Regions from separate parts of the Homo sapiens genome. Here region 2 is linked to region 1. The links come from fine-mapping of genetic effects on gene expression. Tissue or cell type: whole blood. Region 1 holds a variant in brackets; the other region holds the start of a gene. All regions are shown on one strand. Distances are between the middles of the regions.

Region 1 (8,109 bases):
TTTGCAATCTACCCATCTAAAGGGCTAATATCCAGAATCTACAAAGAACTTAAACAAATATACAAGAAAAAATCAAACAACCCCATCAAAAAGTGGGCAAAGGATATGAACAGACACTTCTCAAAAGAAGACATTTGTGCAACCAAAAGACACATGAAAAAATGCTCATCATCACTGGTCATCAGAGAAATGCAAATCAAAACCACAATGAGATACCATCTCACACCAGTTAGAATGGTGATCATTTAAAAGTCAGGAAACAACAGGTGCTGGAGAGGATGTGGAGAAATAGGAACGCTTTTACACTGTTGGTGGGAGTGTAAACTAGTTCAACCATTGTGGAAGACAGTGTGGCAATTCCTCAAGGATCTAGAACTAGAAATACCATTTGATCCAGTGATCCCATTACTGGGTATATACCCAAAGGATTATAAATCATGCTACTATAAAGACACATGCACATGTATGTTTATTGCAGCAATATTCACAATAGCAAAGACTTGGAACCAACCCAAATGTCCATCAGTGATAGAATGGATTAAGAAAATGTGGCATATATACACCATGGAATACTATGCAGCCATAAAAAGGATGAGTTCATGTCCTTTGTAGGGACATGGATGAAGCTGGAAACCATAATTCTGAGCAAACTATCGCAAGGACAGAAAACCAAACACCGCATGTTCTCACTCAGAAGTGGGAATTGAACAATGAGAAAACTTGGACACGGGGCAGGGAACATCACACACCGGGGCCTGTCATAGGGTGGGGGGATGGGGGAGGGATAGCATTAGGAGGAATACCTAATGTAATTGACGAGTTAATGGGTGCAGCAAACCAACACATATGTATACATGTGTAACAAACCTGCACATTGTGCACATGTACCCTATAACTTAAAGTATAATAATAAAAAAAACCCTAGAAAAACATAAAAAAATTAAAGGACATTATGAGAGAATGAAAAGAAAAGATATTCAATGGGAGGAATATTTGAAAATCATGTTATTTGTTAAAGGATTTTTATCTAGATTGTGTAAGAACTCTTACAAGTCAATAATAAAATGACAAATAATCCAACTAATAATGAGCACAGGATCTGAATAGACAGTTGTTTCCAAAGAAGATATCAAAATGGCCAGTAAGCACATGAAAAGGTGCTCAAGATTTTAGTTATCAGGAACATGCAAATCAAAACCACAATGAGCTACTGCTTCATATTCATTAGGATGGCTATAATAATAAAAGACAAATAATAAGTGTTGGTGAGGATGTGGGGAAATTGAAACTCTCATGCACTGTTGGTGAAAATGTAAAATGATGCAGCCACTTTGGAACAGTCTGACAATTCCTCAAAAGGTTAAACATAGAGTTTCCCTATAGCCTAGCAATTCCTCTCCTAGATATATAACCAAGAGAATTGAAAATATATGTTCATGCAAAAATTTGTACATGAATGTTAATAGCGGTATTGTTCACAATCGCTGAAAGGTAGAAACAATCCAAATATCTATTAACTGATAAATAAATAAAGAGTAGTCTAGCCATATACCCATACAATGGAATATTATTCAGCCATAAAAAGGAATGAAGTACTGATACAAGGTACTTCATGGATAAACTTAGGAACATTTTGTTAAGTGAAAGAAACCCATCTCTAACACATTTTTTTGTGATTCCACTTATATAAAATGTCAAAATAGGCAAATTATTGTGGCAGAAAGTAGACTAATTATTGCAAAGAACTGCAGGGTATAGAGGGATTGGCAGATGGTGGCTAAAGAGTACAGGGCTTCTTTTTGGGATAATGAAAATTTTCTAAAATTGATTGTGGTGATGGTTGTACAGTTCTGTAAATACACTAAAATTCATTGAATTGTATGCTTTAGTTTTATTTTATTTTATTTTTTGAGACGGAGTTTCGCTCTTGTTGCCCAGGCTGCAGAGCAATGGCAGATCTCAGCTCATGGCAACCTCCACCTCCTGGGTTCAAGCGATTCTCGTGGCTCAGCCTCCTGAGTAGCTGGGATTACAGGCACCCGCCAACACGCCCAGCTAATTTTTGTATTTTTAGTAGAGATGAGGTTTCACCATGTTGGCCAGGCTGGTCTCGAACTCCTGACCTCAAGTGATCCACCCACCTCGGCCTCTGAATTATATACTTTAAATGGGTGAAATGTATGGTATGTGACTTGTATCTAAATAAAGCTGTTACAAATAATTTTTTAAAATAATTGTTTATATTTAAGAGATATGGAGCTAGGTGAAGATGAACAAAAATTAATGAATCAAAATTCAGGTAGTCATTAGCTTTTACATGACTATCATTTCCATATATTACACATAAACACTTCTAAACTTTTCTATACCAAATTTTGACTTTCTTATTTTAGTAGACAAATAACTATTTCAAGTTACATTATGTTACTGTTGTCTGCCAGCCAATAGTTTCATTTTAGCAGTGTTGCCATCTAAATATGGCAATGTCTGTGCAGTGATTTGAACATTTTGTTGCATATTTGCCCTTATTTATAAAAGTATAGTGGAATTGGAAAAATAAAGTGCTGATGTTAATGATTTTCCAATTGTGTCAAAGGAAGCTATTATTTAGTATGCCAGAAACAGTAAATTTTGATGCTTATCAAATTTAAGCAGATCTGACAACTGTGTTCAATTATAAAAGAAAACAGTCAAACTTAAAACACATGTACAAAATGTTATAAGTATGTTGGCAAAGCTTGTGGCTAAAAATAAGGTGCAGTCATGGAACAAATGTGTGGATCTTTACAACTACGTGTAGCAGAATATTATTTTGATGTATCAGGTTTTTTTCCAGATAATATATATATTTTTTAACCTGGGGGTCCTTCCCAGTTCAAACTTGACCTCTTGGCAGCCATGCCTCGGGATAGGGTTGTTGCAGCATAGTGCAGATACCAAAGAAGTCAATCCTTGGCCTTTGAGGTTTAAAATATGTTTTGGAAACTCAAGGTAGAGATAAAAACCTTTGTGATTAAAAAGCTTTTGAACTTCAAAAGCTAGAACCATCCTGAGAATAAATTCAGAGAATAACCCAGAGAATAAACTCAGGCCTTAACCACAGGCACATGAGAATATGTGATCAGTCAGAGCCAGTTTTTCCAGTGTCTTCTTTTCTCTTAAAGACTAGAAAAAAATTCCTTAGACTTGTAAAGTGAAGACAGTCAGAGGAGAAGTGAGCTCTAAGTCTGGTGAATCTTTAAGGAGGAATCTATCCAGTGGCCCAAATTGCTAGAGCTTCTGCACCTTTTTTCGTTTTTCTTTTTTTTTTTTTGAGATAAGAGTCTTGCTCTGTCACCCAGGCTTGAGTGCAGTGGCGCGATCTCGGCTCACTGCAACCTCTGCCTCCCGGGTTCAAGTGATTCTCCTGCCTCAGCCTCCCGAGTAGCTGAGACTACAGGCATGCACCACCACGCCCAGCTAATTTTTTTGTATTTTTAGCAGAGATGGGGTTTCACCATGTTGGCCAGGATGGTCTCGATCTCTTGACCTTGTGATCCACCCGCCTCGGCCTTCCAAACTGTTGGGATTACAGGCGTGAGCCACCACGTTCGGCCGCTTCTGTGCCTTTTGAAGTGTAGACATTGAGAAGAAATGTTCGTGTGGCAGGGCCAGGCAGAGAGAGTCTGAGACAATATTCCTATGAACCCAGAGTGGCATGGGACAGTGGATGGATGTGTCCACTGCCCTCTGAGAGGGAAAAAGGAGTAGCTGAGAGCCTGGAGAGGCTTTCCTTCTGGGACATGGAGTCATAAATATGATCAACGTGGTTGGGCAGTTGGAAACCAAATGGGAATAAAGATGTTATGGTAAATGCCAATATGCAGGTATCCCTCTCTGTCCCATTCTTATTCCTTGGTACTTTGTGAACCCTGAGAGAAGGAATATGCCAAATATCATTTCAAGTAAACTGAATGAACAAGGATTTTGAGTTGCAAGGATACACCAGAAGGATTTTGAGTTGCAAGGATACACCAGAAGGATTTTGAGTTGCAAGGATACACGCCTGTAATCCCAACACTTTGGGAGGCTGAGATGGGCAGATCACGAGGTCAAGAGATGGAGACCATCCTGCCCAATCAACATGGTGAAACTCCGTCTCTACTAAAAATACAAAAATTAGTTGGGTGTAGTGGCACACGCCTGTAGTGCCAACTACTCAGGAGGCTGAGGCAGGAGAATCGCTTGAACCCGGGAGGCAGAGGTTGCAGTGAGCCAAGATTGCGCCACTACATTCCAGCCTGGGTGACAGAGCGAGACCCCGTCTCAATAAAAACATA[A/C]ATAAATAAATAAATAAATTAAATAAAATACAATCTGTTTTTAATAGTTTAAATATCTGCATATGGTGTATAACATTCAGATGTAAAATCAAGTTAAGCATTTATATCATGTTTGAGACGTCATAATTTTTTTCTCTAGCTCTATGGATTGAATTCCTTCCTTTCCTCCTTTCCTCCTTCCCCCACCAAATAAAACATTTAAGTATAAAGTTCAAATTTCAGGCATTCTACTTTCCAAAACATTTTCCAGGAAAGCATTATGTATTATTAAAGGCAGGGACTGTCTGAATGGGAAAATAGCTTTCCTACCCACCCCCCATTCCAGAATATTGCAATGAAAATGATCAAACCACTGAAGCTTCTAGTAGTTTATCAATTTTTATCATGGGCTTTTGTCCATCCAGTTGCAGCATGACCATTAGAAATAGATAAATTCGGCGGGGCACCCGGTGGCTTACACCTGTAATCCTAGCACTTTGGGAGGCTGAGGTGGGCGGATCCCCTGACGTCAGGAGTTCAAAACTAGCTTGGCCAAATTGGTGAAACGCCGCCTCTACTAAAAAAATACAAAAATTAGCCGGATGTGGTGGCAGGCACCTGTAGTCCCAGCTACTCTGGAGGCTGAGACAGGAGAATCGCTTGAACCTGGGAGGTGGAGGTTGCAGGGAGCCAAGATCGTGCCATTGCACTCCAGCTTGGGCAACAAGAGTGCAACTCCATCTCAAAAAAGAAAAGAAAAGAAAAGAAATGGATAAATTCATTGCAGTCTGTTCATTTACTGTCTTGGGGCAAACACTCAGTTAGTGGGCCTTATTCCTTTGCTACTGAGGAGAAAGATGGAGCCTGGGTCTCAAGCCCACCTTTGCTGTACCTTTGCCAAATGGTACTGTATGCTTGCCGGCTAGAAGGAGGGTGAGGGATTTTTTTACAGCCTGAGAATGAGTGTGTGTGAGTGAGGTGGTATCCACATTCTTACATTCTTTTTTTGTTTTGTTTTGTTTTTGAGACAGAGTCTCACTCTGTTGCCCAGGCTGGAGTGCAGTGGCGCGATCTCCACTCACCGCAACATCCACCTCGCAGGTGCAAGCAATTCTCCTGCCTCAGCCTCCTGAGGAGCTGGGATTACAGGCGCCTGCCACCACCCCCGGCTAGTTTTTGTATTTTTAGTAGATACGGGGTTTCACCATTTTGGCCAGGCTGGTCTCGATCTCCTGACCTCAGGTGATCCATCTGCCTTGGCCTCCCAAAGTGCTGAGATTACAGGCATGAGCCACCACCGTGCCCCGCCTGAGCCAACACTGCACCCGGCCATTCTTAACTCCAAGTCATTGCAGTTTCTTTTTCCCAGAAAACAAGGGGTTAGATGTTGCATTTCATAAAACTAACCAAAGTTCTGTTTACTGATGCAGCACAAGAGATGTAAAAAAAAAAAAAAAGGTAGTGGGCCTTATTATATCATTATAGTGAGAATAGCCCTGGATTTTGAGTCTAAATGGTTTCAGTTCTTTGTCATCTTTGTGGTCTTCATTTTTGTTTCTGTCTTTATACATATTTTTAAATAAAACATCATTAAAACTATATAGTTCAAAAATATTATTTTTCTTTTTAAAAAATTTATAATAGAGACGGGATTTCACCATGTTGCCCAGGCTAGTCTTGAACTCCTGGGCTCAAGTGATCCACTTGCCTCGGTCTCCCAAAGTGGTGGGATTACAGGCGTGAGCCACCGTGCCTGGCCTCAAAATATTATTAATTATAAAATATATGATACATACAAAAGTGTATTAAAACCTCTGGCATTTAAAGAATATTGCTAAAATAAACACCCATTTTTGTACCATCCACCTTAGAAATAGAACTTTACAAATATCTTTAATAGCTTATGAATCACCTGGGGATCATTTTAAAGTGTGGATTCTGATTTAGTAGGTGTGTGAAAGAGTCTGAGATTCTGTATTTCTAACAGGCTACCAAGTGACCCAGATACCAGTGGGCCAAGGATCACGCGTGGAGTAGCATGATCTGAGATGGCTCCCGTGTGCTTCTCCTAATTCTATCCCTTTTATCTCCATAAGAGGTAGACACTTTCTTAAATTTTGCATCAATTATTCCTTGTTTTATTTTAAATAGTTTATCTGTAATACATTTTTAAACATTATAACTGTTTAGTTTTGCCTATTTTAAAATTTTATACAAATGAAAAAATAAGTTGTACATTCTCTGTGACTTGCTTATTTTATTCAATCTTGTGTTTTACAGCCACATTCATGTTGATGCGGAGACCTGTAGTTCATTAATTTTTGCCACTTGTTAGTTTCTGATGTATGAATAGCCTCTTTTTTTTTTTTTTTTTTTGAGACTGAGTTTCATGCTATTGCCCAGGCTGGAGTGCAGTGGCGCGATCTTGGCTCACTGCAACCTCCGCCTCCCAGGTTCGAGCAATTCTCCTGTCTCAGCACCCCCCTAGTAGCTGAGATTACAGGTGCCTGCCACCATGCCTGGCTAATTTTTGTATTTTTAGTAGAGATGGGGTTTCGCCATGTTGGCCAGGCTGGTATCGAACTCCTGACCTCAGGTGATCCACCCGCCTCGGCCTCCCGAAGTGCTGAGATTACAGGCATGAGCCACCGCGCTTGGCCATGAATAGGGCCTATCTTATGCATGAATTTCTATTGTTGATGGACATTTGGTTGCTTTCACTTTTTTGCTATGACAAACAAATTTCTGGTACATGTTTTACAGTGCAAATGTGCCAGAACTTCTTTAGATTATATGCCTACGAATAGAACTGCAGGATCATAGAGTATATATATCTTCAATGTTTATTTTGATGCTAAATTGTTGTTGAAAGTGGTCAATCCAATTCACACCCCACCCCACATTCCACATCCACTAACACTGGGCTGGTCAGATTTTTTTGGAGATTAGGTGGCTGTAAAAGTGTATTTTGGTATGGAATCAACCTGGGTGTTCTACAACAGGTGAATGGATAAAGAAAATTGGTATGTATACACAATGGAATATTATTCAGCCATAAAAAAGGATGAAACCCTGTTATTCCTGGCAACATGGATGGAACTGGAGGACATTATGTAAAGTGAAATAAGCCAGGCACAGAGAGTTAAAAACCATATGTTCTTACTCATATGTAGAAGCTAAAAAAAGTTGATCTCATAGGAGTAAAAAGTAGAACAGAGGGTACTAGAGGCTGGGATGGGTAGGGAAAAGGGAGGAATAGGGAGAGATTAAAGGCTACAAAATTACAGCTAGTTAGGAGGAATAAATTCTAGTGTCCTATACCACTATAGGATGACTATAGTTAACAATAATATATAGTTTCAAATAGCTAGAGGGAGGATATTGAACATTCTCAACACAAACAATTGATAAATGTTTGAGGTGATGGATAAGCTAATTACCCTGATCTGATCACTGTACATTATGTGTATCGAAACATCAGTATGTGCCCCCATTAATATGTACAATTGTTATTCGTCAATTAAAAAATTAAACAAAAACAAACCACATTGCTTACCAAAAGCCAAGAAAGTGTATCTTGAGATTTTTAATTGCTACTTCAAAAAATGAGATTTTCATGTTTATTAGCTAACCAGGTCCTTCATATCTTTACTAGCTGTGAGAACTCATATGAACTGCTTAACTTTTTTGCCATTATCAAAATTACTTAGTTTACTTTTAGATATCACTTTGGCCAGTTTTGCTGGGGAGAGGTCACTATTCCCATAGTGACCTATTCCTTCCTATCATCCCACTTCCCACATTAGGTAAC
Region 2 (8,109 bases), 150 kb before region 1:
TATCGCTAGTGCCCAGCACAGTACACACATTAGGTGCTTAATAAATATTTATTAAATAAACAAGGCACTTTCCCTCTATACCTCTAGGCCTTATTCATCCTTTTCCTTCCCTTTACTACCAAACAACTCAGAAGACTGAGCGAGGGTAATGGCAGGAGACCCAATGTCACAGTATCTCTCCTCATAACTCTGGGCACTGCCTCTTGCCATTACAATCTTCTGAATTTCCCCTGCTCTGCCAACTCTCCTCTGTCCAGATGGTTATCCTTAAGGCTCAGGTGAGAAGGCAGTCTGTGCTTTTTCTAAACTGTAACTTGAGAGTTCAAATTCCAGTTTTGACTATTCTACAAAGATTACTTTTTATATTTATTTATTTTTTGAGACAGTCTCGCTCTGTCACCCAGGCTGGAGTGTAATGGCACAATCTTAGCTCACTGCAATCTCTGCATCCTGGGCTCAAACTACTTTCCTGCCTCAGCCTCCCAGGTAGCTGGGACTACATGCATACACTGCCATGCTAGGCTAATTTTTGTATTTTTTGTAGAGACAGGGGTCTCCCTATGTTGCCCAGGCTGGTCTTGAACTCCTGGACTCAAGCTATCTGCCTGCCTCAGCCTCCCAAAGTGCTAGGATTACAGGCGTGAACCACCCTGCCCAACAAGATAAAAAAAAAAAAAATTGTTTTGAAATTCCAAATCTTGCCAACATCACTCAGGGCTTCTCTATTTCAATCCATGGCACCCACATGTTCCAGATATTTTTGGAAATCAGTACTCCTCAGTTCACAAATCTTAATGGTTTCTTTTTGCCCTCAGGAGAAAGCTCAAATTCCTTTGACTGGCACTCAAGGCTAATTACATCTTACTCCAACTTAGCTTTGGGGCCTCATCAACCACTACTCTCCTATGCAAAATTTCTGATCCATCCAAATGGATCTCCTTATCGCCTCAAAAAAACACCCCTCACATTATTTCATCTTAGGAAAATTCTTCCTAATTTTTCTTCACCAATATGGATTATTCAAGGTCTAGCTCAAGTGACATCTTATTCTCACTGTCATTCTGGATAGCAACACACTTTGAAAACCATTAGGTAGTTCTTAATATTGATGGCTAAGATATTGTTAATTGCTGTTGTGAGGCATGAGCACAAAATGAGATGGAGGTGACAGGAAATATAGTCACTATCCTTAAACCACAAATTTTACATTCCTAACTAAACTCCTTGAAAAGCAATGACCAGCATTACTAATCTCTCTCTCCATCTCACCCGCCTCATACACCCAGCATTTGCCCAGAACATATATTCAATATCTGTCAACTGACTGATACAAATAGCTACAATCAGAATAGGGAAGGCAAAAGAAAGATTAAAAGAAACCGCTGGTGGACATCAACCACTAACTAATCAAAGGGATGTCAACTTCTCCATGTTTCAGTTTTTTCAATTATAAAATGTAGACAGTAATGCTACCTCAAAGGGCTATTCTAAGTATTAAATACTACTTATATTAAATACTGCATGTAAGTGTGTTGTGAACTTCAAAGTACTATACCAATATTTGTTGCTATTTCCCTCAAGTCATGATGTGGAAATAAGACTTGAGACAATGAAAGGCATCTGGGAGGCTGGGCGCAGTGGCTCACGCCTGTAATCCTGGCACTCTGGGAGGCCAAGGTGGGCGGATCACCTGAGGTTGGGAGTTTGAGATCTGCCTGACCAACAGGGAGAAACCCTGTCTCCACTAAAAATAAAAAATTAGCTGGGTGTGGTGGCACATGCCTGTAATCCGAACTACTCGGGAGGCTGAGGCAGGAGAATCGCTTGAACCTGGGAGGCGGAGGTTGTGGTGAGCTGAGATTGTGCCATTGCACTCCAGCCTGGGCAACAAGAGCAAAACTCTGTTTAAAAAAAAAAAAAAAAGAGGCATCTTGGAGACCAAACATGTCCAAAATAACTCTTGATTTCCACCTCTTCAAACTTGTTCCTTCCTCATCTTCCAAGTCTCCGTACCCATACACCCAATTATTCAAGCCGAAAACTTAAAAAGGCATCAATTCCTCTATTTCCTTCACTTCTATATACAATATATATTTTTAATTGAGACAGGGTCTTCCTCTATCATCCAAGCTGGAGTGCAGTGGCACAATCATGGCTCACTGCAGCCTCAACTTCCTGGGCTCAAGTGATTTCTACCACCTCATCTTCCTAGGTAGCTGAGACTACAGGTGCATGCTGCTATCCCTAGCTAATTTATTTTTATTTTTTGTAGAGATGGGGTCTCATTATGTTGCCCAGGCTGGTCTCAAACTTTTGGGCTCAAGCAATCCTCCCACCTCAGCCTCCCAAAGTGCTGGGATTACTGGCGTGAGCCACAGCGCCTGGCCCTGTATTCAATTTTTCAACCCTGTCAGCTCTACCTCTAACATCCTGTATCCATTTACTTCTCTATGCCCTGCTATGCTCTGGTTCAAACCATTATCTTTCCTGGACTACTGAGCAGTAACTTCTGACTAATTTCCCCACTTTCTATTTGTCATGTGGCTGCTTAAATGATTATAAACAAGTGCATTTGACCAACTTCCTATGTTAAAATGGCTTTCCTTGGCTGGGCACAGTGGCTCAGACCTATAATCCTAGCACTTTGGGAGGCCAAGGCGGGAGGACTGCTGTTGGCCAGGAGTTCAAGACCAGCTTGCGCAACACAGTAAGACCCAGTCTCTACAAAAAAATTTTAAGTTAGCCAACTGTGGTGGTGCATGCCTGTAGTCCTAGCTACTTGGAAGGCTGAGGTGGGACGACAGCATGAGCCTAGGAACTGGAGGTTACAGTGAGCTATGATTATACCACTGCAGTCCAGCCTGGGTGACACAGTGAGACCTTGTGTCTATAAAAAAATTTTTTAAATGGCTTCCTTTTGTATTTACAATCTAAATGCCTTTACTGCTTTATAAAAGCCTCTGCCTAACTCTCCCAGCTTCATCTCTCTCCCTAACACTCTTTCCTTTTGTTCACTTCACTGGAGTCCAACTGATTTTCTGTCCCTCAGATATTCTAAGCTTTTTCTCACATCAGGGTTTCTGACCTCATTTCTTGTATCTACAATTGTCTCTCCCTCCTGTCCATACATGGCTGGCCCTTTGTCTATGCTTACATTTTAGTTCAAATGTTAGCTATGTGAAGAGAGCATCTCTGGCCACTCTAGCTAAAGTAGTTCTGCCCCTCAATTTTTTTTTTTTAAGAGACAGGGTCTCATCTGTTGCCCAGGCTGGAGTGCAGTGGCACAATCTTGGTTCACTGCAGCCTCGACCTCCTGTGTTCAAGCGATTCTCCTCCCTTAGCCTCCTGAGTAGCTGGGGCTACAGGCATGCATTACCACGCCCGGTTAATCTTGTATATTTTGTAGAGACTGGGTCTCGCCATGTTGCCCATGCTGGTCTCAAACTCCTGGGCTCAAGGGATTCTGCCTCGGCCTCCCAAAGCGCTGGGATTACAGGCGTGAGCAACGCGCCTGGCCACCTTCAATTTTTATCATGTTTTCTTTTCCTAGCATTAACCACTTTCTGACATTATCTTGTTTACAATGCCTCCTCCACTGAAATGTACATCCCAAAAAAGGCAAGCATCTTGTCAGTCTTGTTCACAACTGTCTCCAGCATTTAGAAAAGTGCTTGGTACATAGGTACTCAACAAAATAATTTTTTGAATGAAGAGTTTGGTTCGATTCTTATCCCTTTTTTGATCAGACCAGGAAATGCCGGAACCTTAGAAGGAAGAATGGCAACTTGCCCCAAACCAATAGCAAGTCTGTGGGAGACCTGTAACTAAAACTTTGGGTCCCCAAAGATATTAAATCAGGCCTCTCGAGTTCCAAACTCAAACCCTGGATTTTGTTTGTTTTGAGACGGAGTCTCGTTCGCCCAGGCTGGAGTGCAGTGGAGCAATGTCGGCTCTCTGCAACCTCCGCCTCCCGGGGTTCAAACGATTCTCCCGCCTCAGCCTCCCGAGTAGCTGGAATTAAAGGTATACGCCACCACGCCCAGGTAATTTTTGTGTTTTTTGTGGAGACAGGGTTTCATCATGTTGGCCAGGCCGGTCTCGAACTCCTGACCTTAGGTGATTCGCCCGCCTCCGCCTCCCAGAGTGTTGGGATTACAGGCGTGAGCCACCGCGCCCAGCCCTAGGTCATTTTTTAGAGAGACATAAACCAGTGTCAGGGACACAGCCTGGACATGGTGCAAAAGACAGTAACGGAGATGCACTACGCCCCTGCCCGCCATTCATCCCTTTGGTTGAATTCAACTCATCCTGGTTGAATTCAAGTCATCCCTCTGCTTGTGAATCCTAACAGCGCTTCCGACTTAGGGCTCCACAGTCCGGGTATGCGTTGCCTAGGTTACCTCGCACCTCCGCTAGCCGGCTGAGAGCCACGCCCATCACCTCCTCTCTAAGATTTGATTGGCTGGCTTTGGCAAGGCCGAGTACTCACCTGGCAGTTCCCTCATGAGGTAAAAAGGGCCACAGCCAGCTCCTGACTTGTCCGCGCCAGGAGGAGCCGTGGCCGCGGTGGGAGGCGGGGCCGTGCCGGGTCCCCCGCCCGCAGGAGGCGGTGGCGGGGGTGGAGGCTTTCCTGGTCCGAAGCCGAGTGCGGTTGGGGGCGGTGGTGGGTCAGCCTGAGCCCCAAACAGTGCCGTGAAATTCTCCATCGTACCCTCCGCCCCGGCGCTGTCTCCGTGTCTGCCGTTGGTAATTTTCATTGGACAATGCTTTCAAGGAGTACCCCCCCGCCCTTTCTCAAGGAGCCGCTTGTCATTGGATGCCTCAGGCACCGCCTACCTTTTTTCAACAACTACTTCCGTCGCCTTATGAGAACGTTCAGGAAGTGCTATTTAACCTTATTAGAGTCTTCTGCTAGCTCTGCTTGCTACAGTCCAATAAAATGACTTAGGCGGATAAAGCGACAACTAGACTAACCAATAAAATATTAAGTTCTTTTTTGGGTTCTGACCTACCACAGCGTTCAGAGAACTACATCCGGGTTTAGAGGCCGTACGTTTGCGATATAGCCCAATAGCAGTCGTTATGGTGGGGGAGGCGGGGCGAGACCTACGACGCCGGCGAGCAGTGGCCGTTACGGCCGAAAAGATGGCGGTCTTGGCACCTCTAATTGCTCTCGTGTATTCGGTGCCGCGACTTTCACGATGGCTCGCCCAACCTTACTACCTTCTGTCGGCCCTGCTCTCTGCTGCCTTCCTACTCGTGAGGAAACTGCCGCCGCTCTGCCACGGTCTGCCCACCCAACGCGAAGACGGTAACCCGTGTGACTTTGACTGGGTGAGCCTCCCGCGTGTTAGTACCCCGCGACCTTGACTGTCCCTGCCCTTGCAGGTGTATCTGGGAACCCTGGGGTTTACCTCTCTGAGGACACCTGAGGTTCCGAGCCTGTAGCGGACTTAGAGACTATTAAGTGCAGGGTCCGAACCATCATCGAGTCTAAACTTTGTGTTTAAGATGGGAAAACGGAACATGTTAGTCGTAGCCCATGCACAACGGCCCAACAGCTTTTGACTGTTGAGTCCAGGTTTCTTTCTGTTTCACCATTGAGACTAATTAACAGCCCTATCAAAACTGTACATACACGTGTATAACGTTTTACAGTGCCGCTCATTATGTAAAGCCTCCTGAGGAGCCAGTAAGGTAGACAAGGCAAGTAGTAATATTCCTGTTTCATTGGTGAAGAAATGGATCTCGGTATATTTAGGTGACTTGCCCCAGGTCATACAACTAATGAGTGCCTGGGACTTGAAACTACTCTTCTGGCCACACTACCTGCACAACACTGTCAGCCGCTTCTTAATTCAATAAACATTTCTAGAGTGTACACTCTAGGCACTCTGCTTGATCCTGAAGATGCGAAAGTGGATAAAATTTGGGGGCTACTGTAAAGGAATTGTAAAAAATACGTTGTAAAGAAATCTTTGGGATTTCTTTGGGAAGTGTCCCAAGCTCCTTGCTGTGCTTCCTTGGTATGGGTGGAGGGACTGCTCGGAACATAAACTTAAAGCACTTTCCCTTCTGCCATATAGCATGTAGGGGCCAAGGAAAAGCTTCCCCTTTGCTCTCTGAGGGTTTGTTGAAAAATCAACCGACAAAGGGCACATTAATAGGAGAAAGGCATAGAAATTTTATTTTAACGTGCATAGCATGAGGGAATTGCAGGAGAATGACCCAGTGGGGTACAGATGCTTATATACCCTCTTTCATAGGAATATGGGAGATGGGAAAATGTGGGTGATTTTAAGGTGGATCGTAAATGATTTTTAGGGTGATTCAGTGGCCTGGAGAACATACAGTGGCCTGGGACAATGACTGTTGGGCCTGCAGAGCAGACAATGGTTTCTGACAAAAATCTGTCCAGGTGTGTTGACAGGCTTCCATCTTTCTTCTTGTACTGAAGTAAGTTAATGAAAACTCAGGGAAGAGACCAGAAGTAATTGTTGTCTTCTTTGACAGGTCTGGACTTTAGGCAGATAAGGTAGTTATCAGAGTAAAGCTGCTTCCAGTATCTGCTGGTTTCCAGGGACCTTTAATTTAAAATGATTAGCATACAGGATGCCATATTTTGGGGTGTGAGTCCCTGGTCTTCTTTATTTCCTTTGTCTGAAACTTCCTTAGAAGTTTCACTATAAGCTGAGTTGGTGTCTGTGGAGAGAGAAATCGGGCTAGTAATTGAGCGGCAAAGGATCCCATTAAACCAGCCTCTCATTTTGGGGGATAGTCCAGTTCAATTAAATTGTTGTGTCTCATTTCAGAAGATGGCATTGTAGATGAGTTCTCAAAGCTAGGCCTCTGTATATGATGTAGGCAAACAGGTATTTAATAAGAGAGACATTTCTATGGAACAAGACAAACAAAGCTTAATATCTGGTATAGTCTATAAACTAGTTTCTTTAGAGTCTGGAGGGCAGTCAATTGGGAAGATTAATAGCAATCTATTTTCCTAGATTGTAGGTTGTGTGTAAAGTTTGTCCAAATATAAGCTTTTGTGGTGATTTTTTTTTCAAAGTCACGTTGACTAGCTTTAGCTGGTAAGGCCTTAGGAAAAAGGCAGGGTTTTTAGTTTTTTGGATTTTTTTTTGAGACAAGGTCTTGCTCTGTCATCCAAGCTGGAGTGCAGTGATGTGATCATGGCTCACTGTAGTCTTAACCTCCTGGGCAAAGCCATCCTGCCACCTCAGCTTTCCAGGTAGCTGGAACCAAAGGCATGCACTACACACCTGGCTAATTTTTAAAAATTTTTTTTCAAGGTGGGGTCTCTTGATGTTGCCCAGGCTGGTCTTGAACTCCTGAGCTCAAGGGATCCTCCTGACTTGGCTTCCTAAGGAGCTGGGATTTACAGGTGTGAGCCACTGCGCCAAGCTAAAAAAGGCCGTTTTAATTTTTAGTGATTCTAAGTCAGAAGAGTGGGTGAAAAATGGAAAACATTAGTCTGGAGGTTAGCAATTTTATGAGTCCAGTTTTATTTTCATTAGACTTTGGAAATTTTTACCCAGTCCGGTGATACAGTTTCAAAGTTATCAGAAACCTTTATTTGTCAGCATTCTTCCCATGCTTTCCATGATCCTCCTTGAAAATAAGACACTTGGCCAGGCATGGTGGCTCACATCTGTAATCCCAGCACTTTGGGAGGCTGAGGCGGGTGGATTTCCTGAGCTCAGGAGTTCGAGACCAGCCTGGCCAACATGGTGTAACCCCGTCTCTACTAAAAATACAAAAAATTAGCTGGGTGTGGTGGTGGGTGCCTGTAATCCCAGCTACTCTGGAGGCTAAGGCAGGAGAATCACTTGAACCTGAGAGGCAGAGGTTGCAGTGAGCCAGGATCGTGCCATTGCACTCCAGCCTGGGCAACAAGAGCAAAGTTCTGTCTCAAAATAAATAAATAAATAAAATTAAAAAAATATATTTTATATATAATATATATGTATTAATGTGCTTTTAATACTAAAGCTGATTTTAATAAACTTTACAAACAAATCTGTCTAATCTTGATCAGCTTTGACTAGACAAGATAAAATTTCCATAAACCTTTTATAACCTCTTAGAATTTGT

Evidence for each region. PIP is the estimated chance that this variant, and not a neighbour inherited with it, causes the effect.
Region 2: MED19 starts here. The variant in region 1 is fine-mapped to the expression of MED19 in whole blood (INTERVAL, PIP 0.98).

Annotation. Positions count from the first base shown.
Region 1 is chr11:57,853,077-57,861,185 of GRCh38, forward strand. No RefSeq gene overlaps it. Among named protein-coding and RNA genes, the nearest start is that of CTNND1, 95 kb to the left of the region's middle. The variant A/C (reference allele first, on the strand shown) is at 4,320.
Region 2 is chr11:57,707,474-57,715,582 of GRCh38, forward strand. MED19 (mediator complex subunit 19) reads right to left here and starts at 4,742. Exons shown (of 5, transcript NM_001317078.4): 1 at 4,490-4,742. The coding sequence starts at 4,706. TMX2 (thioredoxin related transmembrane protein 2) reads left to right here and starts at 5,120. Exons shown (of 8, transcript NM_015959.4): 1 at 5,120-5,334. The coding sequence starts at 5,146. TMX2-CTNND1 (TMX2-CTNND1 readthrough (NMD candidate)) reads left to right here and starts at 5,050. Exons shown (of 21, transcript NR_037646.1): 1 at 5,050-5,334. RefSeq lists a silencer at 4,373-4,712 and an enhancer at 8,080-8,109.